Linked DNA regions of Homo sapiens: all the other regions are linked to region 3. Evidence: fine-mapped expression QTL. A gene starts in region 3. Each other region holds a variant in brackets. All regions are shown on one strand. Distances are from middle to middle.

The links. PIP is the estimated chance that this variant, and not a neighbour inherited with it, causes the effect.
Region 1: its variant is fine-mapped to the expression of PADI2 in whole blood (INTERVAL, PIP above 0.99).
Region 2: its variant is fine-mapped to the expression of PADI2 in whole blood (INTERVAL, PIP above 0.99).

The regions. Positions count from the first base shown.
Region 1 is chr1:17,094,902-17,105,107 of GRCh38, forward strand. PADI2 (peptidyl arginine deiminase 2) reads right to left here. Exons shown (of 16, transcript NM_007365.3): 2 at 9,977-10,160; 3 at 8,086-8,158; 4 at 1,008-1,069. Among named protein-coding and RNA genes, the nearest start is that of PADI2, 19 kb to the right of the region's middle. The variant C/G (reference allele first, on the strand shown) is at 4,077.
Region 2 is chr1:17,047,168-17,057,373 of GRCh38, forward strand. SDHB (succinate dehydrogenase complex iron sulfur subunit B) reads right to left here and starts at 6,865. Exons shown (of 8, transcript NM_003000.3): 1 at 6,781-6,865. The coding sequence starts at 6,852. RefSeq lists enhancers at 6,745-6,804, 7,355-7,404. The variant G/A (reference allele first, on the strand shown) is at 5,277.
Region 3 is chr1:17,113,663-17,123,868 of GRCh38, forward strand. It overlaps PADI2 (peptidyl arginine deiminase 2), which reads right to left and starts at 5,789. Exons shown (of 16, transcript NM_007365.3): 1 at 5,618-5,789. The coding sequence starts at 5,709. It overlaps LOC124903861 (a long non-coding RNA gene), which reads left to right. Exons shown (of 3, transcript XR_007065506.1): 3 at 9-183. RefSeq lists silencers at 5,599-5,808, 8,331-8,514 and an enhancer at 6,380-6,914.

The DNA.
Region 1 (10,206 bases), 19 kb before region 3:
CAGGGCTGGCCCTGGTCTCAGGCAAGCCTTGCTCACGATCCTAGAAGAAGGGACTTCCCCACATGGCTGAGAACCCTCTCCTGACCTGCAGAGAGTCAGGGTAGCAGGCTGCTAGGACCCAGGCTTCTCATCAGGCTGTGTTTATTTTACTTCGTAAGTACCCCTCTATGTATACTTTACTCTAGGCTTCAGAGTGTTATTATAAAAGTCACATATGCCCATGGCAAAAATTGAGATAATACAGAAGGGCAGAAAATGGAAAGCAGTTAGAAGCAACAGCCTGAATGTACACAGAGCAAGACTGATGGAGCCTAAAAACTAGGTTGAGGGAAAAGTACAAAACAGAATGTGATGGAGAACACCATGCCGTCTGCACAAATTAAAAATACATGCACACCAACCACACCACATGCCTCCTGAGAGTCACCAGAGCAGAAAGAGACACATTAAACCCAGCAAAATGGTCCTCTGTGGGGGAGCAGAATGGGAGTGGGGAATGCAAGATAAAAGAAAATAAGTAAATGAACGAGGGAACAAATGAATGAATGGTGAATGAATGCAAGAATAAATAGAAAGAGGAGAGGGGCCGTGCATGCACCAGCAGAGATAATACCACGCCTGGAACTGAGAATGATGAATGCGACCCTCTGTCCTGAGGGTCTGTCTCCCCCACCTCCCTAGTCTTAAAAGAACAGGCAAAATAATAAGAGCAAATGCCTTCACAGTGCTTCCTCTGTAGCGGGCACATTTATCCTTCCCAGCAGTTCCATGAATTGGGCGTCCCCATCATGGGATGGAGAAACTGAGACTCAGGAGCCTGCTCTGTTGCCGTCTCTAGGAGATGCCTGAGCTCCTCTGTGGGTTCCATCATTGGTATGCTGTGTGTCTGGGAGCCTGTCTTGGGCTTTAGTCTCCTGAGCTGTGAAATGGGAATTGCCTGCGGGATCTGGGGCTGTGCCCTCGGAAGCCCTGGGTTCAGGGTGGTGCCTGCCCTGAAAGCTAGGTACCTTCTTTGGGTTGTTCTTCTCCACCACACCATCCCGGTCTGCGTCCACATCCAGGGAGATCTCTGGGGAGAAGAGACATGGGTGAGTTGCTGAGCCTGCCAGGCAGGGCAGGGCAGGGGCAAGAGGAAGACCTGTGGGATTTGGGTGCGTCTCAGCCATTCATTTGGTCACGGGAAAGAGAGGACCTCGCTGAAGTCATCTTATGCAACCCCCTGCCTCAACATCCCACTACCCACTGGAGACCGTCAGCAGACACCGTGTGGACCTCGTAGCTTACGGCTGCAAGAGCTGCCATCGGGGAGGTCTGGGACCTCCTACCACTTCATTGTTCTGGCTGGGGGTTGGGGAATGATCCTCGCTGCACAGATCTGGATGCCTCAGTTCAGAGGTGAAGTCGCATGCCCAAGATCACATAGGGACGCTAGCAGAACTGGGGTACACAGTGCGGTTGGTCTGATTCATAGTTCATATTCTGAAAACTTAACAGGGATAGCATTCCCAAACTGCCTTTCTCAGTCTACCCGGGCATGCGCATAGGTGTGCACATGTGCACCTGGGTGTGCGTGTCTCTTTCTCTCCCAGAACTTCCAGTGGGCTAGATCCCACCTTCAAGGACTGAGGGTTTTACTGTGGGTGGGAAGCTGTCTCTAACCCCTCTTGGTCTGAGGTCACCTGTGAGTCTAGATGGAGGATCCAGGGCCAGGCCCCCACTTATCCCTTCTCTTGGTGAAGGGACCCTCAGCATCCCTAGGCCTGCCATGGAGACAGGCTTTGTGGAGACTGTAGGGAAGTGAAAAGGTTTAGTATCAGACAAGGTGGGGTTTAGACCCTGGTTCTCTGCTTATAAGCTGTGTGACTTTGGGCAGGTTAGAGGACCTCTCTGAGCCCCAGTTTCCTCACTTGTAACATGGGGCCCTTCCTGGTTACAGCAGATGCATTAGCTGCAATGGAAGGCACTACTGACATTTTTGAGCCAAATAACTCTTTGTGTGGGGGCAGCCTGTGCATTGTAGGATGTTTAACAGCACTCCTGGCTTCTACCTACCAGATGCCAGTAACATCCCTCCCAGTCGTGACAGCCAAAAATGTCTCCAGATATTGTCAAATGTCCCTTGGGAGGCGAAATTGCCTTGAGTTGGAGACGGATGAGGTCGAGTAGGGATGTGGTTGGGAAGGTGTTGGGAGTGTCACACACATGACATGTGCCCGTTCCAGGTCCCCAGAGCTGCCCGAGTGGGCTCATCTCACGCTGAGCATGACTTGGACCTGGTGGGCGCTGGGTGGTAATGAATGCATTCCTGGTTAGTCCCCGTGGCAGGCACACCCTCTGCCTGGAGGGCATGGAAAGGAGGGTCCTGGCACACGAAGTGCACTGATGTCACCCTTCTCTGGGCCAACCAAGCCCAGAGTCCAGAGATCACATTCAGGTCCTCCCTTTGCCTATAGCCTGCATACCCTAGACCTGCATGTGACTTTTCCAGTCTAGAAGGAGGCTGCAAGGGCGCCTGGCCCTTGAGAGAGGCAGTCTTGTGTGTCCCAGCCTCTGCAGCTGTGCGGTGAGTTAGGTGCTGTAAGGCATAATTTGTAACCTCCTCCCTCCGATCGCATTCACTCCACATTTCACTGCTGAGGAGCTACTGCTCCGGGAGCTGTACCAGGCAACGGGCAATGGAGGCACAGCACCTGCTCTCAAGGCGTCCACAGTCCCATGAGATGAATAGCATTGCTCTCGTTTCACAGGGCAGCAAACCCAGGTTCAGAGAAGCCACTTGTCAGCAAATCGGGCTGGTAATCTGGGAGGCTGGTGCAGGATAAGGACCCCAGGGGAAAGAAGGGAAGGCGGTACCACCAGGGGCTAAGAGCCTGGGGTGCAGGGGCAGGAATAATACTGGTTTTGGTTCCTGGACCTTTGTGAACTTTCCAGCCGGTCACGTCCACTGAATGCTGCCTTTCAGGGAGCTGGCTTCCTGAAACTCCTCCCTCGGAAGGAGCCGCAGGTCCAGCCTCTTTAGGGAGCCACTCTGTCCTTTTCAAGGTAAAAATTTCTCCCCTGCGGGCATCCTGCTCTGCAGCTGCACAGCGTTTTCCAAGGTGTGTTCTCTCGGCCACTCCAGGGGAGGCGTGACCACCCCCACCCCCTAACGATACAGATGAGGAAACCCAGGCCCGCAGCAGGGAAGTGACCACCGAAGTTCCCAGAACGCAGAGCCAGGCTCTCAGCAGGGCCTCGGACTCCGGCTGCCTGCTCTCTGCTGTTCCCTGCAATGAACCCAGGCTGACCTCCCTGCAAGCTGTTTCCAAAAGCCCAGCCCAAAGTCAAAGACACAAGACTTGCTCCCTTGAAGGTCATTCCCAGAGGAAGTGCCCATTTCCCCACCTTGGTAGCCCTGCGGCCTTCGTCTCTAGGCCGTAAGGTGACATTACATTGGGACTCCTTGTGGCGAGTCCATTAAAGCAGTGGGGCCGTGGGCTAGGAGAGAAATTATGGTGCAGTCTATACTGCTTCATTTCATTATGAATTCTTAAATGGAAACATTTTATTCATGTAATATTTGGACATAGTACAAACAAAATCAAATAAAATAGTAACACACTGTTTCTAAAGAAAGACAGCAGTTCCTTGTCCAGCCCTTCTTCTCAGCTGCCTAAGGCAACCTCTCTCATGCTTATTGCGATTTCCTGATTTACTGAATTCAGACAGGTTTCGTTACCTTCCTGTTACGAAATGTGGGCATTTCACAGTGTGGCTCCCTTATCGTCCTCCCAGCCTCTCACAGGGCTTCATAACTCCTCTCTGATGACCCATGACCTGTCCCCATAATCCACTGAAATGACCTTCTGGCCCCTTCACCCTCAGAGACCGCCCACCCTGTAGTCATGCCCATGGGACTTCGCCCCTGCAAGGCTTCCCCCAATGTCTGATTTAACTAGATTCCAGTGGGATGCTGCGGGTAGGGGCAGAGAACAGGGCTGGTGTGACCTGCCCAGAGCATTGCCTCTTGGGATGGCTCTGCCTTCCCGAGGGGGAGGAGGGAGAGGAGCTCTGCTTCAGGGCCTCCAGGCTCCAGA[C/G]GACATTTCCCAGAGGCTCTGGATCCCACCTCAGTTCCCCAGAATAGCCCCAAGGCGTCAGGTGGCTCCTGGGTGTGGGGCAGATTGACGGGAAATGTCCCTAGGATTGGGTTCAAGGCAGTCTGCCCTGAGAATGAAGACACTGAAGCCTCAGCTCTGACCGAGAGGCACAAGCATTTTGGAGGGTCGCCAGAGAGTGGCAGGGTGCCTGGCCTTCTTGCCTTACTAAGCAGCTTGAGATGTTATGGGAAGGAAGGACACCCTCCCCCACAGCCAATCAGGGCAAGTATCCCAGCCTCTGGGGAGAAGGCATAGGATCAAGCCCCTTAGGTTGATGTTAAAATTTTCTGGGGCCCGCATATGTGTACTCCTTCCACTGCCAGGACCTCAAATAGGGTGGGATTCTTCCTCCCTCCCCACACCTCACCTCTTGCTCTCCCCCATCCCTCCCAAAAAATGGAAGTCTTTGCAAATCAACCCTAACCAGGGTCTTGAAGGTCCTTAGGGATTAATTAGCTCAAACCCCTTATTTTATAGTTTGTAAAAAGTGAGTCCTAGTGGGGGTGGTTACTTGTTAAGGTCACACAGCAAGTCCTTGGCGGGATTGGGACAAAGACCCAGAGCCTGATCTGGCCAAAGGAATCATGAATTTGCTCCCAAATCCCAGAAGGAAGAAGGAGAGACCATACATTTCTTTAACTTCACCCAGGCAGAGAGAAAATGCGGCCACCTCAAGAGCAAGAGAGAAAAGCAGGCGGAGCATTGACTAAGCACCCACTCTGTGCCGGGCCCTTCGCACACAACATCCCACTGAATCCTTGTAAACACCATGCAAGGCTGCTCTGTGAAGCGCATTTTATAGATGAGGAAGCCAAGGCTCAGGGGGATGATGTGACTTGTCACAAGCTGGCTGGAGGGGACAGAGAAAGATCTTAGGCTTACTTCTGTCTACCCAGAAGCCAAGGCTCTTTCTGCTCAATGTGGACTCAGGATAGGACCAGGGTGAGAGAGATTCAGATACATTTTTGTGCCCAGGGGACAGTCCCAGCCTCTCAAGATATTGGGGTTGGGGGGGGGCTTGCCTCTGAGGCGCTGCCCCTGAGTGATTGATTACTCAGGATGACGGGCTCAAGGGCTCCTGGGGCAGATGCTCGAGAAAAGAGAAAACCTAGAAGGGACAGAGAGAACAGTGGTCCCCAAGGGAAACCAGATTTTCACCAGGGTCTCTGTTGGAACAGGAAACAGAAGTTCAATGGTGTTAGTTTCTTTTTGCAATTGAATGACTGTCTCTTATTCTGTTTTTTGTTTTGTTTTGTGTTATTTTTGAGACAGAGTCTCATTCTGTCGCCGAGGCTGGAGTGCAGTGGCACTGTGTCAGCTCACTGCAACCTCTGTCTCCTGGTTTCAAGCAATTCTCCTGCCTCAGCCTCCTGAGTAGCTGGGATTACAGGCGTCCACCACCATGCCCGGCTAGTTTTTATATTTTTAGTAGAGACAGGGTTTCACCATGTTGGCCAGGCTGGTCTTGAACTCCTGACCTCAGGTGATCCGCCCACCTCGGCCTCCCAAAGTGCTGGGATTACAGGCGTGAGCCACTGTGCCCGGCCATGACTGTCTTTTATTCTGAGATTATGCCTTGCCTATTTTTTAAGAGTTAAAATGATAGTGATAGTTGATAGCAAATTTTTTTTTTTTTTTTTTTGAGACAAAGTCTCGCTCTGTCGCCCAGGCTGGAGGGCAGTGGCACCATCTTGGCTCACTGCAACCTCCACCTCTTGGGTTCAAGCAATTCTCCTGCCTCAGCCTCCTGAGTAGCTGGGACTACAGGTGCGTGCCACCACGCCCAGTTAATTTTTGTATTTTTAGTAGAGATGTGGTTTCGCCACATTGGCCAGGCTGGTCTCAAACTCCTGACCTCATGATCTGCCCACCTTGGCCTCCCAAAGTGTTGGGATTACAGGCGTGAGACACCGCGCCTGGCCACAAATTGTTTTATTGATGTATTTTTTTTTCTTTTTTTTGCCAAGCATCAAAGTTGTTAGTGTTCTCATTTTTTGGGGGGTGGGGGCAGGGGACATTTGATTGGCCCATGGAATCTAAATATCTGGAACTTGTGGCAGTTAAATAAATAATTATTAACAGACCTCGGAAGGATGAACTTGGTCACTTGTCGTGGGCACATGTGGCATCTTTTGGGACTCAGCCATGCCGCCAACTCTGAGCGGGCTTCCTCTAAGCACAGCTTTGTCATCTCCTAGTGAGGAGGAAAAGTCCAGTCCTGCCTCCTTATAGACGCTTATTTTGCCATCTATCCTAAGTCTGTCTTGCTTTGGTGGAAGTCTTGTTAATGGTGCAGTCAGCCTTCTGGGATCATCCTCATTTGACAGGTGTCAGGCCCCTGCCCTTCCTGCCCCCGTCCTCAGGTGTCCCTATCTTGGTGGGATTAGGTTTCCTCAGGGACTGTCATCTGAGACTGCCTGGATGCTGTGTGCATGCAAGGTTCACACACGTGCCAGGGCTCAGTACAACCCAGGAGTCTTTGTTGATCATCTGCCACCCTCACCAAGGTCATCCCGAGGTTCCCTACCCCAGGGCTGGGCACCTCCTTGGGACAGAAAGAGGGACAGGGGGACCAGCAACCAAGCCCATTTGGGAATTAGCCAAGAATGAGAAGGGCCCTGCTGCTAAGCCTGTTTAAGCAGCTGAGAGCACAGGGCTAGAGAGGAAGGGGCTGGCTCGGGAGTTAGTTGTATCTTGGGGAGATTCTGAGACCCCCCCTGAGAATGTGGGATAACTGGAATGATTGGCATCTCACCAACCATTTTCTGGAGATGTAGCTGCAGGCAAGTATTTGTTTTACCTTTTCTGAGCCTTGATTTTCTCATCTATAAAATGAGGATGATAATAATAATATCTATCCTTGGAATAGTTGGAAGAAGAGATTGAAATCGTGACGGTAAAACATTGAGTACTGGAGCCTGGCACACCATAGGTGCTCAATTAATATCAGGTGTTTACCATTCTCCCCCTCCTCCTCCTCATCAAAGTGCCCAGTGCAGCTCTAGACACACAGTAGGCCTGCAATAAGCAGGCCGCATCATTATTTTGAAAGCACTCAGCATGCAGTTGACTCTCAATAACTGGTAGTTCCCTTCCTCTGCCATGCGGCAACTCTGTCAATGTTAAACCAAGGTTGGATGAACAAAATGACCCTCTGAAATGTCCTCTTGGCTTTAACATTCTATGATTAAAAAATGAAATAAAATAGCATAAAAGTAATGCCTCAGTTTCAGGGGGTGGAGTGATGGAAAATTCAGATGATCACAGCCAAGGGTCCTGTAGAGCCAGGCTAGGCTCCACCTCCCTGGCATGCAGGCCTGGCACCCAGCGCAGGGCAGTGTGATGCAATGGAGAGAACCTGAGACAGGGATAATTCTGGGTTCTGGACTCAACTTGCCACCCAGTTGCTGTGTGATGTTGAATAAATTCCCTAACCTCTCTGGGCCTCACCATCCTGTGGATCAAATGAAGGACTTGGACTAGGTGAGTTAAGGACCTGGAGGCTGCATCTCTGCACCCTCGGGGCTGAATCTGGGGAGAACCAGGGGGCAGCTGGGATTGTCAAGAACAGCTGCTAGTTTTATAGACTGTGGCCATTCCCCTCACCATGAGAGGGACACTCTTCTCCAGGCTGCAGGGGAGAGGCAGGGGGAAACACACTTCACCTTTTTCTCTTTTAGGGCCACAGAGCCTGGGAAGGGGACCTTGACACTTGGGGGGGGGTTGCTGATGGATCAGGGAGTGCCTCTTCCTGCAGATAAGCCCCCACCCCAGTATGGAAGGACCGGGGTGGGGCACATGTGACATCCCTCCCCAGGCCTGTGCCATTCAGAAGAAGCTCCAAGTGCCAGGTCAGCCGCACTGAGAACCGCCTAAGTGCCCCAGAGAAGGACAACAGTGCCAGGCCCTGGGTGATGAAGGCACTGAGACGGCAACCATGCCAACTCACCAATGGCTGTGAGGAAGAGCCCCGCCTGGTCGATGGGAATGCTCCCTTCCTCGTCATAGTAGTTGACGGTGACCTTGGTGGGGAGGGGGCACATTGGAGTAGAGAGAAAAGAGAGCAGAGATCACAGATCACAAGCAGGAAAACCTGAAGCAACTGCTGTCCCTCACAGCTTGTCAAGCCAACCCTCTCCAAACATCAGAACCCTCTCCTCCAGGAAGAACTCCTGGGTTGGTGGGCGGTTTCCCTCAGGTAACTGAACTAGACTGTGGACTCCCCTCCTGCTGGCTGAGAGGGCAGTTAGGATGCTGTCTGCCTTCCTGTGCCACTGTGTGCATTCTGCTGCCTGGGGTCCCCCATATCTGCCATGTTGCACGTCTAGTGCCCACTGAGGGGACAGGGCTGAGGCTATTTTCTTTGGACCATGTTCAATGCCATCACTGTGATGGGGCACATGGTAAAGTTCATAATTACGGAACCCAGAAAGGAGACAGTTCTGGTCTCAGCCTCACCACTTAGGCAAATCACCCATGGATGTTCAGCACCCCATTTTACAGATAGACCAAGGACACTTGTGACTGTAAGCTCCAATGATTCTATGGTTCTGAGCCTCTAAACTTTCTATCACTCAGCTGTCTATAATTTTCATCCTTTACGAAGCCATCGTTCCATGGTCTAACCCCACAACATCCACATGGCTACCGAGCACTGGAAATGCGGCTATTCTGAACGGAGGTGTGTTATAAGGTGTAAAACTCACACTAATTTTAAATTTGGTATGGAAAAAGAATATAAACTACCAGCCTGGGCAATATAGTAAGACCTGTCTCTAAAAAAAAAAAAAAAAAAAATTAGCTGGGCACGATGGCAGGTGCCTGGAGTCCCAGCTACTCGGGAGGCTGGGGCAGGAGGACTGCTTGAACCCAGTAGCTTGAGGTTGCAGTGAGCTATGATCGCACCACTGCACTCCAGCCTGGGAGTCAGAGTGAGATCCTGTCTCTTAAAAACAAACAAACAGGCCGGCCGCGGTGGCTCACGCCTGTAATCCCAGCACTTTGGGAGGCCAAGGTGGGCGGATCACAAGGTCAGGAGATCGACAGCATCCTGGCTAACACGGTGAAACCCCATCTCTACTAAAAATACAAAAAAAAAAAAAAATTAGCTAGGCATAGGGCAGGCGTCTGTAGTCCCAGCTACTCTGGAGGCTGAGGCAGGAGAATGGTGTGAACCTGGGAGGTGGAGCTTGCAGTGAGCCGAGATCGCATCACTGCACTCCAGCCTGGGTGACAGAGGGAGACTCCGTCTCAAACAAACAAACAAACAAAAAACAAACAATTTTGTTAATATTTTTTATATTGATAGCATGTCAAAATGATAATATTTTGATAGATAGGGTTAAGTAATAGATATTAAGACAATTAATTTCACCTGTTTCTTTTTGCCTTTTCTTTTTTTTTTTTTTTTTTTTTGAGACGGAGTCTCGCTCTGTCGCCCAGGCTGGAGTGCAGTGGTGCGATCTCGGCTCACTGCAAGCTCCGCCTCCCGGGTTCACGCCATTCTCCTGCCTCAGCCTCCCAAGTAGCTGGGTCTACAGGCACCCGCCCCATGCCTGGCTAATCTTTTGTATTTTTAGTAGAGACAGGGTTTCACCGTGTTAGCCAGGATGGTCTCGATCTCCTGACCTTGTGATCCACCCGCCTCGGCCTCCCAAAGTGCTGGGATTACAGGCTTGAGCTACTGCGCCCGGCCTCTTTTTGCCTTTTCAATGTGGTTACTGCAGAACTGAAAATGACACATGGCCCACGTGCAGTTTCTATGGGACAGGGCTGGTCCACCCTGCCTCTATCCTGGCATGGTCCCGGGCCCGCAGAGGCTGGACTTCCCGCCGTGGTACCTTGTCACTGCTGGCCTCGGTGCTCGCCTGGCTCATGGTGACCCGCAGGGTGGTGCTGGGCGAGAGAAGCCAGCGCTGCTTGCCATTGGTGGCCACCTCCTCAGCCTCCCCATCACGCACCACCTCCACCCACACGTGTTCCGAGTGCTTCAGGCTGAAGGTTTGGGCCCCGGCTGGGGCCGCGCTGTGGGGAGAGATGAGAGAGGGTTAGGGAGAGCCCTGGGGTAGGT
Region 2 (10,206 bases), 66 kb before region 3:
CAACATGGTGAAACTCCGTCTCTACTAAAGATACAAAAATTAGCCCGGTGTGGTGGCACATGTCTGTAATCCCAGCTACTCGGGAGGCAGAGGCAGGAGAATCGCTTGACCCTGGGAGACGGAGATTGCAGTGAGCCAAGATTGCGCCACTGCACTCCAGCCTGGGTGACAGAGTGAGACGCTGTTTCAAAGAAACAAAACAAAACAAAAAGAAGAAAATAATACTGAGACTCCACATACTCTTCTCACCTGTAATCCCAGCACTTTGGGAGGCTGAGGTTGGGAAATCACCTGAGATCAGGGATTCAAGACCAGCCCAGCCAACATGGTGAAACCCCGTCCCTACTAAAAATACAAAAAAACGAATTAGCAGGGTGTGGTGGCGTGTGCCTGTAATCCCAGCTACTAGGGAGGCTGAGGCAGGAGAATGGCTTGAACTTGGGAGGTAAAGGTTGCAGTGAGCTAAGACTGTGCCACTGTATACCACCCTGGGTGACAAAGTGAAACTCAAGCTAAAAAAAAAAAAAAAAGAGAGAGAGTTTTGCTCTGTCACTGATTGTGCAGTGGCATGATCACAGCTCACTGCAGCCTCAACCTTCTGGACTCAAGCGATCCTCCCATCTCAGCTTCCCCAGTAGCTAGGACTACAGGCATGCGCCACCATGCCCAGTTAGTTTTTTTACATTTATTTTTGTAGAGATAGGGGTCTCACTGTGTTGCCTAGGCTGGTCTTGAACTCCTGGCCCCAAGTGATCCTCTGCCTGGCCCTCCCGAAGAGTTGGGATATAGGCATGAGCCACCATGCCAGGGCCCACATACTCTTTACCCAGTCTCCCCAACAGGAACATCTTGCAAACTGTAGCACACCAGCACAACCAGAATACTGACAGTGCTAGTCAAGATAGGGGACATTCCCATAAGCACAGGATCACTAACATTGCCCTTTTATAGCCCTGTCCACTTCCTCCCACCCTACCTCCCCTGTACTCCGTAAGCCCTAGCAATCACTAATCTGTTCTCTACTTCTCAAATTCGGTCATTTCAAGAATGTTATATCAATATAATCATCTGGTATGTAGCCTTTTGGAATTGGCTTTTTTTATTCAGCCGAATTCTCCGGAGATTCATCCAAGTTGCTGTGTACAGCAATAGCTTTTTTCTTGTTATAGCTGAGTAGCACTCCAAGGTATCATGTACCACAATTTGCTTAACCATGTAACTACTGAGGGACATTGGGGGTGTTCTAATTTTTGGTGACATGAATAAAGCTGAGATGAACATTTGTGGACAAATTTCTGTGTGAACGTTACATCTTCATTTCTCAGGATAAACACCCAGGTGTGTAATTGTTGGGCTGTATGGTAGCTACAAGTTTAGTTTTTTTTAAGCAACTGACAAAACTATTTTCCAGAGTGGGTGGCTGCTGTGCCTGAGGCAGATAGTAGGGTAAGTGGGACAATATGCCTTTTAAAAAATGGGGCTACTTCAAGTTTTTACTTCTAATTTGGACACTTTTATTTTTCATTTATTTTTTAAAATATTTATTTATTTATTTATTTTGAGATGGGGTCTCACTCTTGTCCCCCAGGCTGGAGTACAATGGCGCGATCTCGGCTCACTGCAACCTCCACCTCCCGACTTCAAGTGATTCTTCTGCCTCAGCCTCCTGAGTAGCTGGGACTACAGGTGCCTGCCACCACGCCGAGCTAATTTTTATATTTTTAGTAGAGACGGGGTTTCACCATGTTGGCCAGGCTGGTCTTGAACTCCTGACCTCAGGTGATCCGCCTGCCTTGGCCTCCCAAAGTGCTGGGATTATAGGTACAGGCCACCTTGCCCGGCCTTTATTTTTTATTTTTATAGACACATGGTCTAGCTTTATTGCCCAGGCTGGAGATCATGGCTCACTGCAGCCTTTAACTCCTGGGCTCAGGCGATCATCCTGACTCAGCCTCCCAAGTAGCTGGGACTATAGGTGCACACCATCATGTCCAGCTAATTTTTGTAGAGACAGGGTCTTGCCATGTTGGCTAAGCTGGTATGGAATTTCTGGGCTTAAGCAATCCTCCCATCTCAGCCTCCCAAAGTGTTGGGATTACAGGTGTGAGCCATTGTGTCTGGCCCTAACTTGGACTTTTTTTTTTCTTTTTTGGAGAGTCTCATTCTGTTGCTCAGGCTGGAGTGCAGTGGCGCGATCTTGGATCGCTGCAACCTCCACCCCTCAGGCTCATGCAATTCTCCTGTCTCAGCCACCCGGGTAGCTGGGATTACAGGCATGTGCCATAAAGTCCAGCTAATTTTTGTATTTTTAGTACAGACAAGGTTTTGCCATTTGGCCAGGCTGGGCTCAAACTCCTGGCCTCAAGTGATCCACCTGCCTCAGCGTTCCAAAGTGTTGGGATTACAGGTGTGAGCAACCGCGCCTGGCCCCTAACCGGGCTTTAAACAGAATCTGGGACTGGAGCATAATCCCCTAGTTCTTTTTTTTTTTTTTTTTTTTTTTTTTTTTTGTGAGACAGTCTCACTCTGTCACCCAGGCTGGAGTGGAGTGGCGAGATCTCTCTGCCTCCTGGGTTCAAGCAATTCTCCTGCCTCAGCCTCCCAAGTAGCTGGGATTACAGGCGCGTGTCACACGCCCGGCTAACTTTTTTGTATTTTTAGTAGGGATGGGGTTTCACCGTTTTAGCCAGGATGGTCTTGAACTCCTGATGTCGTGATCCACCTGCCTCAGCCTCCCAAAGTGCTGGATTACATACAGGTGTGAGCCACTGTGCCAGGCATAACCCCCTAGTTCTAAAGCCTGATTTAGTATTGTCAGTGGGCAACAGGCATTAGGCTCTATCAAGCTGGGTATCAGAACCACAAGGCCTGTGGGATGACTGTGGTTACCTGCAATGAGGTTTTCCCTTCAACATTTCTTTATAACATTTAAATATCTGTTTCATATCCACTCTACACGGATAATTGATCACGTATTATCTTTCCAAAAGAGACTAAGTTTGTATTAGAGCTAATTTAAATTTTTAAAAAGTCTTATCATATGAATGATGTGAAATAAGAGCAATGCCAGGATGTACTACACTGAATATCTAAGTCGACATATCCCAACATCAGTTTTGGAGTGCCCCAAAATGTCATCATTTTTTTTTTTTCAGTACAACTAATTTAAATTTGTTTTGTGTCAAAAATGTATTTTATAGGCCAGGCGTGGTGGCTCATGCCTGTAATCCCAGTACTTTGGGAGGCCGAGGCAGGTGGATTACCTGAGGTCAGGAGTTCGAGATCAGCCTGGCCAACACGGTGAAACCCCGTCTCTACTAAAAATACAAAAAAATTAGACAGGCACGATGGCGGGCACCTGTAATCTCAGCTACTTGGGAGGCCGAGGCAGGAGAATTGCTTGAAATCCGGGAGGCGGAGGGTACGGTGAGCCAAGATTCCGCCACTGCACTCCATCCTGGGCAACAACGTGAGCGTGACTCTGTCTCAAAAAAAAAAAAAAATGTATTTCATACAATATTTGGTGGGGCAAAGGGGGTTTACCAGAATGAAAGAAGATTCTGAAATCAAAATCACCAGAGTGGTCATGGTTCTGAAAGTGATAGAGCTTTGCTCATCTTGAGGTCTGTACAAAGAGTTAATTCTCAGGATTATGTTATCTGTGTTCCACCAAAAAATTCGTTGAATACATATATCTAAAAATTTGCCAGATTTCATTCATCGAACCTTTATAATCTGTCACACACGGTGCCAAATAATCTCTAATCTTTATAACATCTCTATGAAAAATGTTTTGTTGTTCCCAGTTAAAAGACGAGGATAGGATCATATAGCAACACAGGTCACTTGATTCAAAAATCCAACCTTTTAGCCATTATAACCAGTGGTGAAAACGCAAACATAAAACGCAACAGTGCAAAAAGATAATTCCATTTCACAATGAGATCCAAGGAACAAAAGAAGTTGTTGCTCTAATCATACAATGAGACTATATGATTTTTTTCCCCTTGTTACCTGCCCAGCAATTTATACTACAAATCCAAAAGGAAAGAGGGCCCCTTGAAAGCATTTTTACGTTAATCTAAAGACTAATGAGTATTCAAGGCAGAAAGTACATTCCTAGGAAATCTTGGATAGTATGAATTTCATAGTTTATAATTTAAGCAAGGTAAGCAACAACTGAACTGAGAAGGGTGAATTCTGAATGGTGCTGAAGGCTGGTTGTTGTTCCTCCAGTAAAGTGTCCTTAGGGTGCAGGCTTGGAGTTGGATGGAGTGGATAAAGATTTGGAGGCCAGAGAAGAAGGTGGGGAAATAGAGAGGAAGAAAGCAAAAAGGACTGTATGAAGATAAGCCTGAGTAAAATACAAGGTGCAGGCTTGCTGAAAAGTGTGATTGGTGATGCTTGAAATCCAAGCTCTATCACTTACAAGCTGTGTATTCTTCTGCAAATTATTAGCTTTTCGGATTCTATTTCTTCCTTTGTAAAGGGTGGGTAGTATTAATATCTGCCTCATAAGATAACCCGGGGGAGGGGGGGTCAAGTTTCTAGCATAGCCCAGAAAAAAATTTTTGCTCTACAAGATTGGCAACCTTATCAGTCTTTGTATTATTCTGATTTGTAAATAGGTATCCTAGCCCTGCCAGCCTAAGGAACAAGATGCACATTTTTTAAATTTTTTTTTTTTTTTTGAGACTGAGTTTCGCTCTTGTCGCCCAGGATGGAGTGCAATGGTGCGATTTCAGCTCACTGCACCCTCCACCTCCCAGGTTCAAGCAATTCTCCTGCCTCAGCCTCCTGTGTAGCTAGGATTATAGGCGCCCACCACCACGCCCAGCTAATTTTTTTTTTATTTTTTTAGTAGAGACGGGGTTTCACCATGTTGGCCGGGCTGGTCTTGAACTCCTGACCTCAGGTGATCCACCCACCTTGGCCTCCCAAAGTGCTGGAATTACAGGCATGAGCCACTGCACCTGGCAAGATACACACTTTTAAGTAGGTAGTTCTTGTCCTAAAGGAGTTCATAGTCCAGATGAAGAAATAAGGCAACACAAACAATAGTTAATATACTACAGTCAAATACTTACAGGCAGAATTGTGGTTCAGTGGTCAGACTATAAGCATAAAAAGAATTCAGAACCTGAACCTGAATGTTACCCACAGGTAACACACCAAGCTCATTACTGAATTCTTTTGAGGTGGCTTTTGTGGGTATACATGTACATTCCCACAAGGAAGGGGAGGCCTTGGGGCTCTTCTATTTTCTGTTGCCCTCA[G/A]GAGGCCCTGCAAAGACCTTGCCTGGAATTACAAAAATGACCTATGAAATTAGCCTTTTCTACAATGCATTCTTAGAAGAGGGGCTTGGAACTCTCTCGTTAGTGGGGCTCTCACAATTTAATTGTTTGCTCAGCAACTATAAAAGGAACAGGTAAACAAGCTCATTATCAATCATCAATTTAATACTGAGAGGATGTCAGCTTGAGGCTCTGGTAGGCTGTCTTCTTCCTCTATCTCCCCTTTTCAGAAAGGCTGATGCAGACAGAGTGGATCCAAGTTCACACACAGCATGCTGGATAGAACCAGGATTGGAACATGGGCAATATGTACTGTGTTATGCAGCCATAGCAGGCACTTAAGATGAAAGATGTCCTCATTTAAGTGCAAGAGAGGAAGAGGAACTAAAATTTCTTGGACACCAACCATGTCCCAAGATCTATGCTAAGGAGTTTTTCTGGTACCATGTTAAAAAACTGCCTCAGGTCTGCTTCTTGGGAATGTGATATTTTGAGCAAGCCAAAAATTTTCTTTCTGGGGGCCTCAAGTTTTCAAAGCTCCAAAAAGGAGGGTAAGGATTCTTGCTTGCCCACCTTAAAGGGGTTGTTGAGAATCCCAGAAGAGGAACAGACTTAGAAAGGATTTGCAAATCCTTAGTCCCTTATGTATACAAAAGCAATTTCCCTTCCCCTTCTAAATGTTCCCACTTAGAAGGCAGGTCAGAAATGTGTTGTTTCTTGGCCATACAAGGGGCGTGGGAAAATCTGTTACTGCACACGGCATAGTAATAAACAAGAACAGCGCCAAGCCCTCTACCTGTCATTCCATGTCAACTCTATGAGGTCCGTATTATTATATGACCTTTAGAGTCAGAAACACTGAGAGGATACTAGTGAAACTGTGGTGACACTGCTTTAAGGAACCCAGTCTTTCCTGCAACCCCCACCACCCACCTCCGGGATCCTTCGAGGTAGGGGGCTGGGTGCATTTCCCTCCATCTCTCCCTTCCCCTGCCCTGTCCCCAACAATTCACATGTCCTTTCCTCACCCATCCCGGTCCTCAACCTCGCACCCTTGAGGAATTACCTCGCTTCCCAATTCCCATCCTTCACACCCCGCAGGTCTCCCTTTTCTACAGAGGCGATAGTTTGGTGGCAGAAAAAGGGCTTGGAACTCCAATGTCTGGATTCAAATTCTGGTTCCAGCAGTCATTCGCTTGCCATGTGACCTTGAGCAATTCAAGTCCCCTTTCTGAACGTCCCCCCCCCCCGCACCCTTAGCTGTAAAAAATTGCCCGTGCCCTAACTCACAAGCTGCTGCGAGGCGCAGAAAGATAACTTGACAGGGATGCTCGAAGCCAAACCAAAGCACTGCACCAGGGGGAGGAGGTCCTCCATCTCCCTGAGGCCTTGCCCTATGCTTCCTCAGTCTCTCCGCAGCCCCATCAGCTCCAGGCAGTCTCTGTGGCTTTCCTGACTTTTCCCTCTCTGAGGCTCCAGGACTCACCTGCAGGCAGGCTCCGCCAAGGGTTGTGGCCGGCAACCGGCGCCTCAAGGAGAGGGCGACCACCGCCGCCATCTTGGCTCCTGACGTCAGCCCCACCCCTTAACCCCGAGGTCGCTCTCCGCCGGTGTCCCGTCGAACATCGCGGCGCCCAGCCTACATCCACTGAGGACCCACTAGCCGCGTACGAGCAACCAAGTGGGAGGCGGCTTCCGGTTTCCCGGGTGGGCGGAGGGAAGGCGGGGCAAGCACAGCGAGCGTGCGCAATAGCGCAGTAGCGGCGCATGCCCATTTGGCTTCCCCCGTGACCTTCTCAGAAAGGGGAGGAGTCTGAGAGGCAGGGCGACTTTCAGGGGGTGGGGCTAAGACTTAGATGGGGCGGAGCCATCCTATCCGGGTCCCTGCCCCGATTTCAACCTCTTTATTCCTGGAATTTTTGTTTGTTTGTTTGAGATGGAGTCTCGCACTGTTTCCCGGGCTGGAGTGCAATGGCGCGATCTTGGCTCACTGCAACCTCCGCCTCCCGGGTTCACGCGATTCTCCTGCCTCAGCCTCCCGAGTAGCTGGGATTACAGGCGCACACCATCACACCCGGCTAATTTTTTGTATTTTTAGTAGAGACGGGGTTTCATCATCTTGGCCAGACTGGTCTTGAACTCCTGACCTCGTGATCCGCCCACCTTGGCCTCCCAAAGTGCTGGAATTACAGGCATGAGCCACTGCGCCCGGCCAATTTTTTTTTTTTTTTTCAGACAGGGTCTCACTCTGTTGCCCAGGCCGGTGTGCAGTCTTGGCTCACTGCAGCCTCGACTTCCCAGGCTCAAGCGATCCTCCCACCTCCAGAGTAGCTGGGACTACAGGCGTGTGAGCCACCATACCCGGGTAGTTTTTTTTTTTTTCTTTTTTTTGAGATGGAGTATCGCTCTGTCTCCCAGGCTGGAGTGCAGTGGCGCGATCTCGGCTGACTGCAACCTCCGCCTCCCGGGTTCAAGCAATTCCCTGCCTCAGCCTCCCGAGTAGCTGGGATTATAGGCGTCCGCCATCATGCCCGGCTAATTTTTTTGTGTTTTTAGTAGAGATGGGGTTTCACCATCTTGGCCAGGCTGGTCTTGAACTCCTGACCTCGTGAGCCACCCACCTCGGCCTCCCAAAGTACTGGAATTACAGGCATGAGCCACCGCGCCCGGCCACCCGGATAATTTTTTTAAAAAATTATTTGTAGAGATGGAGTCTGGCTATGTTGCCCAGGCTGGGCTCAAGCAATCATCCTGCTCCAACTTCCCAAAGTGCTGGGATTACAGGCGTGAGCCACCACACCTAGCCTCCCTAAGAATTTGTCAGTCTTATTATTCATCTCTGACGCTTACTGGCTTGAGTCAGCCCTTTCTGTCGCATACCGTGCAGCTTGCCCGAGGCTGCCCAGGTTTCTGCACTGAGAGTCCCAAACAAACTGGGCAGTTGGTGAATGAGCTGAGGTGATTTCAAGGGTGGCTGGCAAAGGTGCCATTCTTTTGTTCGTTCATTCATTCATTCATAAATACGAATGGAGTGGCTACTATGTGGCAGGCACCAAGTGCTGGGATGCTGCAGGGAATGAGCAAGCCAGGTGGTCACTGCTCATTGAATTTACTCTCTAGTGGTGGAGACGGCAAGTGAGCAGACAGCTAGACACTGTGAGCTCTGTTCTGTACGAGAGGGTGTGCCCAGAGAAGGACACCCAGTCCTTGGTGGCTTTGTTAGCCATTTAATATAAGAAACCATTTCTACTCTGTGCCAAACATTATGGTCCATTATCCCACTTAATCCCCACAGCAGTTCTGTGAAGAAAGTTTTTTGGTTTTGTTTTTTACTGAGTTTCCATTTTAGACATCTCAGCTTCTTTTTCCAGCCCCCTCCATGGATCTGCTCAGAGCTGGCCTCACTCTTGGGACTTACCTTGGGCAGGAGTGGCCTGGAGCCTCCAAGGCACCTGCCTCTTCAGTCACTCCACGCGTTTGTGTAGATTGTTAACCTTGCAGGTCCCGGGGTTTCGTAGGAGTGATTTTTTTTTCCCCTTTCTGTCTGCTTGTTTTGGACATGTGAAGGGCGCCTTTCTATAGTCTTTGGTTTCCACTCTCACAGCTGATGTGGATGCTACTGGAGACATTGAGATGGCCAGGTCAATTGGCTGGATGGGCTGTTTCTGGAGTCCTTGACTGGAACCCCGCTATACCGCCAGTGTGGCCTCATTAAAGGGGGTGTGTAGTGAGGCCTGAACCTCTAGGTCTAACCTGGAATATTCTCTTCAAGGCCATGTGACCTTGGATAAGCCCCTCCCCATCTTTGACCTATAGTTTCCTTGCCTGAACCATTAGGGTGTTGGGCCCTCTGATTTAAGATTCTGTGATTCACGTGGCTGTCTTGTGGATAACTGGTAACAATGCTGAGGTCACCTTGACTTTCACTGGTGCTGACCCAGGACTGGAACAGGGCCCCTCTGGTCTGCCCCATGGGGCCTCTTGGGTCACCCAAACTGGCTGAGATATGGGAAGACTGCCGCTCTGTCTCTAACTCCTAACTGAATTGTCGTCTGAGCTGAAGAAAGCTCTTCCTGAAAGGAATGTATTTCTAGAGAATTGGTCCTCTTAGCATTTTCAGGGTTCTTTCATCTCAAAGGCAGATGCCACCCCTAGATAAGCAACTACCCTTTCAGTTTGCCCAGGTCACCTTGGAAAAAGCAGTCTGAGGCCAGCATAAGTGAGACCTTGATTTATGGAGGGGCTGTTGGTGCCAATGGGCCCACATGCCCTGCAGTCACATCATTCCTGGGCTTCGTGGGGATTTGGGGAGCTCAAAGTTATGGAGGAATAAATTCCTGGGCGGCTGTACCTCCGCCCTGGACTTTGGGATGCCAGAAAGTCACAGCTGCAGAAGGACTTAGAAATTTTCATGGCCTGATCCTGACATATTTTCCAAAGATGTCCTCATGATAAGACCCTAGGTTTTTTTGGTTTATTTCCATTCGTCTAGAGAGTGACATATTGCTTTTCACCAGACAGTCTGCTAGACACTATGTTTATACTGAACTTTATCACTTGCAAAGGTGTTTACATAAACAGTCTCATTTAGTCCTCATAACCACACTTTTGGGTTGGAAAAGCTGCTCCTGTTTTCCAGACTCTCTCAGTCTTTGGACAGCAGGAAAACTGAGCAGCCTTAGGTGAGCGTTTTGCTTTAGGAGGTCTTTCTCCCCTAAGAGCTGGAAATCATGTCCAGAATTGAAAATTAAAACCAGCTGGGCAAAGTGGCTCATACCTGTAATCCCAGAACTTTGGGAGGCTGAAGTGGGAGGATCGATCCCTTGAGCCCAGGAGTTCGAGACCAGCCTGGGCAACATGGTGAGACCCTGTCTCTACAAAAAAATTTAAAATCCGCCAAGCATGGTGGTGC
Region 3 (10,206 bases):
TTTCACAGGTGGGAGTCTGAGACACAGAGAAGGGACACTAAAGACTGGCTTCCTGTCCTGGGCTCTTGGGTCAATGACAGAGAGAAGCAAGCCTGGGCCCATCAAAGCCTCTGGGTGCAAGGTCTGGCGTGGCTGGGCAGGAAAGAGCTGCCTTCAAAAGCTGCCTCCTCCAAAGTGCAGCAGGTATGTCTGGCCAGCTAGGGGTGGGCACTGGGGTGAGCCCCTGCCACTGTGCTCCCATCCCAACTCAGGGCCCTGCAGTCAATGAGGGAAGGTCTCAGGGACCCCAACTATGCAGGGACTGTGAGCCTGGTTCTCCTTAGAACACTCCCAACCCCAGGAAACTAGCCTGAAACCAGAGCCCTGGAGCAATTCCTGGCAAGGCATCCCGTTTGGGGTTGAGGGCTCTGGGTGCTGTTCTAATTTATGGGCCACCTGACCTGGCCTGAATTCCTCCCACCGTCATTCTCTCAGGAGCAAGCGCTGCTCGGGCCAAGCTTGGCCACATGCCCTTGACCTTCCACAGGCCCATCCAACGGTGCCTGTCCCTTGAGGCTGGGGGTGGGGAGCTCAGCCCCATGACAGGCCAGTCCACAGGCATCACAGGCCACATTCATTCATTCATTCGTTCATTCATTCATTCATTCAGGGAGCCCTTCATTGACTCCAGGGAGGATCACAAACAAGGAGGAGGCACGCCTGAAACATAAGTACCAGGAGGGCAGCCTGGCAGAGCAGGCAGGGGCCTGGGCTCTGCACCCCACAGTTTACTGGCTGTGCCATCCTGGACAAACACTCCTTCCTTCAGTTTCCCCAGCTGCGAAAAGGGGACAATAATTGTACCTAACTCATAAAGTTGTTGCAAGGTTTAAATACGTAAATTATTACATGTCCGTGAGATGAGCATGCAAAGTGTTGAGAAGCCTGCACAAAATAAGTGTTCAATAAATGTCAACTAGTAACATTAAGAAACGATGAGAAGTTGTGCAAAGAAAAAAATGTGATGAAACAGAGTTCTCGGGACTCAGGGTAGGGCACCACGACATGGGGTAGTCAAAGAAAGCTTCCTGGAGGAGGTGACATTGGAGCTGAGACTTGACTGATGAAAGTCAGGCTTGTGGGGATCTGGGGGATGGTGTTCCAGGCAGAGGGAACAGCAACTGCAAAGGCCCTGAGGTGGGAATGAGCTTGGCACAGCCAAGGGCTAACAGCATCCACAAAGCCAGCGTGGCCGGAATGGAGTGTGTGCTGAGGAATTGCTAGAAGAGGAGATCAGTGAGGTAGGGCCTGGCACACTATGGGGAGGGGAGCCCATAGCACCCCAGGCCCCCATCATGGAAAACTGGATCTCAGACCCTCCTGGCCTTTGTCCTAATGACACTTTTTAAAAAAGCAAATACATCTCTAGCCTTCACACCAACCAAGAGACAGAAAGTCTGGGAGTGAGTTTGTGCCAAAGTCTAGGAGCGCCTGCCTGATACCTTCTTCCTATCTTCTGCCAGCGAGTTATGGGCAAATTATTACTATTTACTTGATATTACTAGCTGACATTTATCTTCTTTCTGTCTTCTACTGGGACAATGGCTGGTCAGCCTCTGCCTTGGGGAATCCCAGGGAAGGGAATCCTCCCACCTCCACCTCACAGACGCAGCTGGAACCTCTGCACAGGCAAAGGGACAATGTTAAGATCATTCCAGTGTCCTGAAGCTCCTGCAGACCTCAGGATCTGGATCCTGGCTCCTGTACACCAGGGAGGAAAAGAAGAGCCCTGCCTTCTCGAGAACTCTCACTGACAGAGGCATAAGCCGAGGGAGGAACAGAAGAAGCCATTCCCAAGGCCCAGCTTGTGGGCAGAGAGTGACCACCCTGCTACCTACTTTACTCCGAGGCTGCCCTGTCCCTAATAATCCTTCCAGACTCTGGGAGTGTCCATGCCTCCAGGGCTCACAAGAGGTGGGTGGCCAGGATGGAACCAACCTAGGGACTCCCTCTGTGCTCTCTTTCCAACTTCAAGCCCAAATCAGATGGGGACCCAGGCCAGCCCCACTGAAGAAGTGACTGTCGGCTAAAGGGACCACCGGAGGAGATTGTGTGGGCCAGGTGTACCTGTGCCAAGACTAAGATGAGTATATTTGGGAAGAGCAGAAGGAAACAGCGAGTATCTTTAACAACAATCACAAAGTACAATTTCTAACAAACACCCTACTTCCTTCTTTCTATGTATCTATTCATTGCTTGCTGGAGACTAGCAGTCAGAATGAGGCTAGGTCAAGGCATCCATCCCCAGGGGGGCCAGTTTTGCTGGGAGAGCGTGGGTGGCCCAGAGCACCCCTGCCCATGGTGGCCTGGATGACCCCTCATAGGGCAGCATAGTGGTCAATTGTTCATCACTGTGACCCTGAGTGTACATCTTCTATTGAATACAAGATCCTTCCTCCTGTTCTCTGATCGACCCCCATTTGGGTCAGTGGAGACTCAGAGAAGTGAAGCGATTTGCTCAAGGTCACACAGCCCGTGGATGGAAGCTGGTAGGGCAGTGCCTGCCAGGACCACAAGGTCTATTGAGGAATGAGGCTGGGGAGGCCCCTGCTATGTGTCTGGAGGGGATCCTGTGTGCCAGCATCACAGGAAAGGGAGTCCAGAGCCCTTGGGAAAGGGAGTGGGTGCTGAGGCCGTTTCGCTCACCTTTGCGACTCAGAAGGAGTGAGGGTCAGGATGCCACTCCGTAATTAACTGGGCCCAGCACCCCCGGGCCTTGTTCCTTGGGGTCTACTTGGAGGCTCTGGGGGCATCACTTGGGGTCTTGAGCCAGGACCTGTGTCCGGGCAGCAAAGGACTCAGGGAAGAGTGGAGGGCCAAATGGGAGTTGGTGAAGTCTCTGGGGACAGTGGGCTCGTGGCCAGGGTGGAAGAGACACAGGCTGAGAGGGCCGTCCAGTTCAACCCGCTGGTTTTAGGGTCACATAGGACAGAGTGGGGTATAAGAGCATGAGTTCTGAGTCAAACAGACCTGGACCTGAGTCCTGTGTGACTCTGGACAAATGGCTTCATCTCTCTGAGCCTTACCTTCCTCATCTGTAAAATGGGATGATCAATGAACCCTCCAGGGTCTATGGTGAGGAAGAAAGGAGGTGGTGGGTTCAGTTCCTAAGTGCCCACTAATACCTCCTCCTGTTATCAATACTGGCAGTTGCTCTCATTACTACAGGTAACTCGAGTCACAATAGCAGTAACAACTCAAGCTCCTTAGTCCTGGAAGAGGCTTCCTTCCACTGGACCAGTGAGTCTCAGCTGGCTGTGATTTTGCCCCCTGCCAGGGGACTGCTGGCACTGTCTGGCAACATTTTTGGTTGTCACAATTTGGGGGTTGCTACTGGCATCTAGGGGACAGAGGTCAGGGATGCCACTAAACATCCCGCTACAACAAAGAAATATCGAGCCCAAAATGCAATAGTGCGAGATTGAGAAACTCTGCACTAGACCTGTTCTGTCCCGGTGTCACTGGCTCACGGTGGCCAGTGAGCACCTGAGATGCACTCAATCTACGCTGAGATGTGCTGAAGTGTAAAATGTGCACTGGATTACAAAGACTTAGCATGAAAAAAGGAAGGTAAACCATTTCCTTAATAATTTTTATATTGATTGCATGTTGAAATGATAATATTCTAAAATATTGGGTTAAACAAAATATATTATTAAAATTATGCCTGTTGTTTTAACTTTAAAAAAGTGTGGACTACTAGAAGATTTAAAATGCAATTGTGGTTTTGTTGTGGTTCAAACTGGACTTTTCTGGACAGTACTGGTCTAGAGCGCACTGCCCCTCTCTGTGGTGGTGGAGAACCTTAAGTGCCGGTGGGGGTTAGGGTCTTTGTGGTCGTTGAGACAGGACAAGGGGAATCGTCACACTGCTGCCCCCTGCTAGAGGGAGGCTGAGTCCATATCTGCCCCACTCTGTGCCCCTACCCCAGCTGGGCCTCTCTTTGCCAGGATAGAGCGATAGCAGGGCGCCTGAGCAGGAACCCTCCTTTGCTCCCCACCCCCGACTGGGAGGATCATGCCAGCTTTTCAGGCGGCACCAACCATGCCCCAGCAAATAAACAGGTGGGTATGGTGACAGCTGAGGCTTAGAGACCTGAGCACTCTGGCTCCGCGCCCACTCCCTAGCGGTGCCCAGTTCAGGGCTGGGGGTGGGGAAGGCAGGGGAGCTCTTGCACCCCACCAGAGCCTGGACCACCCTCCACTGCTGTGTTCTTGTTCTCAGAGACCACCCAGTCCACCTCTGAGGTTTACATGGGGGACAACTGAAGCCCAGGCCCAGGGGAAGGCAGAGGTTGAGGCCAGGGACAGAGGCATGGAGTGGGTCCCTAGTCCTGGGGCTTGTTGGTATCAGCGTGGCCAGTGCCTCTGCAGCGGTGGCAGGAGACTGGTTGGGCAGGTGGGAGGGCTGCCAGGGCTGTGTGGGGAGACACATGATGGGTTGGTGGGGGCCTGGGAGAGGCAGGGTGCTCCAGGTGTCAGGATGATTTGAGAGCCATAAACCACGATGGTGCCTCCGTGTGAGTTCAGCTTGAGGCAGAGAGGATAGGGGACTCATCCGGTGTCAGCACAGGGTCCCACCTCAGAGTCCTGCATGCTCCCTGCCCCCAGCACTGACCCCTCCAACCCTAGCAATGGGGAGGTTTTAAATGCTTGGAATAGAGGGGGCAGATCAAACCCCAGCATAACCCCACCCTTTCATTCACACCAGCCACACCTTTCCAAGGCCCCGTCCCATTACTCAGGGAGACAGATCATTGGACTTGGCTGCTTTCTGGGATTGCGGGGGGAGTGGTAGGGCCCTACCCTACCTTCAGCTGTCTCGGACATCCCGCACTCTACCAAGTTCTTGGACAGAGAGAAGGGGAGGGAGCAGAACTCTGAATCAGGATCCTTTTCCAACAAAGTACCCCGCTATACACCCCAAGTCCCCGTCGTCAGCTGGGTAGAATATTGTCCCTCTGTGGTCTCAGAATGAAGTCAGGGGAAGGTATCTGGGGACACGGAGCTCAGGGCCAGTGCCTGGGGACAAGCAACCACCAGCAGCCCCCACAGGGCGAAATCGGAGCCTGAGTAACCTCCAGGGCCGGATTCAGCCTCAGGGCAGCTCCCTTCGGGTCCTGCCCCAGTCCCCGGCAAGTCTCCGCGGAAGCTCCGCTGAACTGGGAGTGGGAAGCAGGAGAGGGGCTGGGTTGAGGTGGGTCCGAGGGGAAGTGAGGTGCGGAGGGGAAGTGAAAGGGGAGAGGACGGCAGGGAAGCTGAAGGGGTGTGAGGTCCCCCGGGAGGAGAACTGGAGAGGGCCAGACGGAGGGTTACGGGTGAAAGGGAGGGTCTGTGAGGGAGCTGGGGCTGAGGCTGTGTTAGGGGGTCTGGGAGAGTCTCAGGGTTTCTGGAAGGTGGACACAAGGTTCGGGGGTTGTCAGGTTTCTGGATGAGATTCTTAGGATTTCTGGGCTCGGGGGCTCGGGATGAGGGACAACTCGGGCTGGACAAAGGCTGTCCACGTCCCCGAGTCTGAGCGCGTCTCAGGATTTCTGGGCTCGAGATCTCGGCCCGGGCATCACGGTGGGCCGGCTCACCTGTAGACATCGGTCCAGAGGTAGGTGCCCAGCACGTACACCGCCTCCACGCGGCTCCCGTACTGCAGCCGCACGGTCCGCTCGCGCAGCATCCTCCCCGCCGCAGTGCCCGCGCTCGCTGGTCCGGGGCGGCCGGGAGCACCTGCAGCAGGTGCGCCTTCTCCAGCAGCCTGCGCCCCACGGCCCCGCGCGCAGCCTTATCCAGCGGCCGGTGGGCGGGGCGGCCCGCCCCAGTCCTCTCGCAGTGGGCTGCGGGCCTGTCCGTCAAGCGTGGTCCCGCCCCTAACTCGTCCCGCCCCGCTGAGGTCGTGGCGAAGTCATCAGGGACCAGTTTTGTGCTTTCCATGGTTGGATTGTCATTCTTTCATTCGACAAACCTTCGGTGGGCGCCCAGGTGTTGGAGGGCCCTAGCTCCCCTCCGGACGCCCCAGCCCAGTGGGGCTGAAAATGCAAATGTGGGAACACAAAGAGGGTGCCCTAACCCAGCCTGGGGGCCAGGAAGCCTTCCCAGAGAAGACGATCCTGGAACCTTCTTAAAGGAGGCGTTTGCAAATTAAAGGCGAGGAGAGGGAGCTGCCTGTGCAAAGCCGGGTGCAGCCCGGTACCCCCATCCCCCAACAGTCAGATGAACCTCACCATAGAGAAAACGGGAAGCGGTGGGGATGGGGAACCCGGCAGCTGAGGGAGACCAGGACGCCAAGCCAAGGCATTGGAGGGTGGGAGATGGGAGCCTGGAGTGGTTGTCTCCGCGAGCCGTGGTCGGGTGTGCTCGTGAAATGGGTCATTCTGGGCTGGGGAGGGGCAAGGAAGCCCCTGGCTGTGGCCAGAGCTGGAGAGGTGGGGACTGACCCGGCCACTGCTTAGGGACTGGGATTTTGGTGGCACCTGGTGACTGATAGGATGTGTGGGTGGAGGGAGAGGAGAGGGGTAAGGATTAGGGCCCCGGTTCTGGCCTGGGCCACCAAGGGAAGGGGGGTGCCACCCAGAGGTCATCGTGTGTCTCACAGAGGCTGAGATGTAGGATGACAATCAGTGTGGGCCTCGGCCAGCCCCTCCCATGTCCCAGCCCTTCCCCTGGGACCCAGTGGGAGTGCTGTTCAGACACATACATCAGCCCTGTGTGAGGAAGTGGTCTTTGGTAGGTGAGGACAGAAACTGAGGGGGGGTGGGCAGAGGCCGTGGGAGGGAAGGAGTGGGGCGGAGGGGATGTGTGTTTGGGAAGGAGTTAGAGCTGATGGAAGATGGAGCTCCAGGAACGGGTGCCCCCAGACAAGAGGGGTGAGGCCCACAAGTGCCCAGTGCTGATATACCCAGCCCTTGGACTCCAACCTTCTCCCTGAGGCGGCCCAAATTAGGAGGTGGTGAAGAGCCCAGCTGCTTCTGAGTGGCAGGGATTTGGGAGGAATGTGAGTGGGGAAGAGGGAAGGCCCGAGTTTTAGCCAGGAGGTCATTTGTCCCCCAAAGGCACAGCTCACAGACCCAGGGAGAGGCCAGTAACTGTTTTTTTTTTTTTTTTTTGAGACAGAGTTTTCCTCTTGTTACCCAGGCTGGAGTACAATGGCGCCATCTCAGCTCATTGCAACCTCCGCCTCCCAGGTTTAATTGATTCTCCTGCCTCAGCCTCCCAAGTAGCTGGGATTACAGGCAGGCACCACCACACCCAGCTAATTTTGTATTTTTAGTAGAGACGGGGTTTCTCCATGTTGGCCAGGCTGGTTTTGAACTCCTGATCTCAGGTGATCTACCTGCCTCGGCCTCCCAAAGTGCTAGGATTACAGGCGTGAGCCACAGCGCCCGGCCGAGGCCAGTAACTTCTGATGAACTCCAGGCACCCGGCTGAGCACATCCTCCAATCAGGAGGAATCTCTCGGGTGGCCACCTGCCAAACTGGGACAAAACTTGTGTAGCTTGGAGAGACTTCGAGGCGCCCCCAGAGGTGAGCTCGTGTCTGGGCACCCCTCTGCCACGAGTGACTTTGGAGCCCTTACTGTGTGACAGATAACGGGCACCCACCAGGGTTCTCACCTTCCTGGGGCTCTAACTTTCATTTGACTCATGGGGAGACTGGGGCCAGAGTGGGGGAGGACACTGTACCCCCCACTGACGGAGACCCCGGGCAGCTCATAACAGGACACTGGGCAAGATAGTGATAACATCAGACCGCAATACCCAGGGGAGCTGGAGTAAGAGCGGGCACTTACTGCTTTCTTTCTGTGGGTCAGGCACTGTTCCAAGCGGCTCTTTTCATGTATTAGAGTTAGATCACTGAACCCTCCCAGTAACTCCGCCACTTTACAGATGAAGAAAGTGAGCTGTGAGGAGGTGGGGGAATTGACTCTGGGTTGCAGAGCTCCTAAGAGTGGCAGAGGGAGGAGCTTGCAGGGCCACTGGGGTGGAGGCAGGGGGCAAGGCCGAGTGAGGGCAGGGGCAGAATGCTGTCCATGCTTTGTAGATAAGGAAGTCGCAGTTCTAGGCCCAGCTCTGCTTTTGTGCCGCCTTGGGCCAGGTACCCTGCCATTCGGAGCCCCATTTTCTGCCTCTGTGAAGTAACTGATCCCTCAGCACGGTGTAAGGACGGTATTAAACGAGACAACAAGGTGCAGAAAATACTAGCACAGAGCCTGGCACAAGGCTCAAGAAATGAAGCCCCCTCCCCTTAAAAACCCAATTCAGACCTGGCCACCCACACTCAGGACTCCTGCCCGGGCTCAGGCCATCATGTTGGGCCCAGAGCCTGGTTGATGAGACAGGAGTTTCCTGGTGCCCAGAGGTTTAAAATAGCTGAAGTAGTCACAGCTGTTGGTGGATTCAGGGCCGGAGGTCGCATGCATCACGGCTGCTCCCACCTCTCCCCTGGGATCCGGAAGAGCCACAAAGCATCTCACGGTGTCTTTTGGGGACTTAGCTTAGGCCAGTTCCTGGCACAGACCCGCACCCACCCCTCCAGCAAGCGCCCCTGCCAAGCCTGTGGGCAGGGTGCCTGGGCTAAGAGGGGCTCTTCTGAGCTGTTTTCTGTTAGGTTCCTCCACTGGGTGTGGGGTCTCCGGGCCAGGCCTTGGGGGAACCAGGGAGGCCACTCAAACTTCGACAAGCCTGCTTTGAGGAAACAGACAGCTTACTGAGAGCACTATACATACAATAATTTAAAAAGAAAGAAAAAAATGCACAAGTATTACCTGGTCATTGTGGAAAAGTTAAAAAAAATATGATCACCCATGACCCTAGTACCAGAGATCAGTCTGAATCTATGAGTATGATCTGGCCGGGCTGCCCACAGGCTGCTGTGGGGCAGCACACTTCCTGAGCCCTTGCGCCATGCCAGGAGCTGTTCAGAGCCCATTCACACACACATCTCAGCCTGTTTAATCCTCACGACAGCCCTGTGAGGTGAGAGCTATTATTATCTTCCATCTGCACAGAGGCACCAACCAGCCTGCAGTGAAGAGCATGGACTTTGGTCTTGGTGGACCTGGGGTCAAGTCTGGCTCTGCCCCTCACTAGCTGGGGGCCTCTCTGGGCCTCAGTTTCTTCTTCTATAAAGGAGATACTAGGAATTGTTATAAGGAACAAGGAATAACAAGATGATATCCAGTAAGGTACTGCACATCGTGGCCTGGCACAGACCCAAGTTCCAGTAGACGGTAGTTATTTCCTATGCGTATATAGTTATTTTAAGTTTTTGTAAACATGGGCTTCTGACTACATGCTGTTTGATAACATACTTCAAAGCTTCCACAATGTGAGAGGCTGGGCTGGCTGTGGCCAGGTCACACAGAGCATTGTAAGTCGTGGAAAAGGCTTTGGGGCTTTATCTTTATGGGGTCATGGGGGAAGCCTGGGAAGGACTTTGGAAGGTGTCAACGGCACGATGTACACTTTAGGAAAATCACTCTGGCTGCTGTAGGCAGCTAAATTTGACAGGAATTCTGGCAGGAGACCAGAGAAAGGAAGAGGTCGGGGTCTGGGCCATGGATCCCCAAAGCAATCCTTCTGTGGCCAGGGATCGCCCCAACCCCTGACTCTGCACCATGGGGACCTGCAGTCATACCCTCAAGAGCAGATCCCCATAACCCTGGCCCTGCCTGGCCCCGTCACATTCCCTTTCCCCTGGCAAAGCCCACCCTTTGGTCTCACTCCCTTGAGAAGAGTCTCTGGGATGGGGGCGTTGATTCAGCCTCTGCCTCAGCTCTCGGTCCTGAGAGACATCGTGCTCAGAGGCGGGGAAGGGCTGGGGTGCTCCATTGTTCTAATACTGCGTGAGTTCAGAATGAGGAAGTCATGTCTCTTCTGCGTGCTGCTGTGGCTGTACCCCACTCGGGGGTACATTTATATATGCAGAGAGAGAGATTTATTTTAAGAAATTGGCTCACATGGTTGTGGGGGCTGACAAGCCTGAAATTTGTAGAGCTGGCCAGTCAGAAATGGGAGAAGAATTGATGTTGCGGTCTTGAGTCTGAAATCTACAGGTTGGAAACAGCACGGTTTCTATGTTGCATTCTGGAGGCTGAATTGCCTCCTCTTTGGGAAACCTCAGTCTTTGTTGTTAAGGCCTTCAACTGATTGGATGAGGCCCACCCACATTTTGGAGT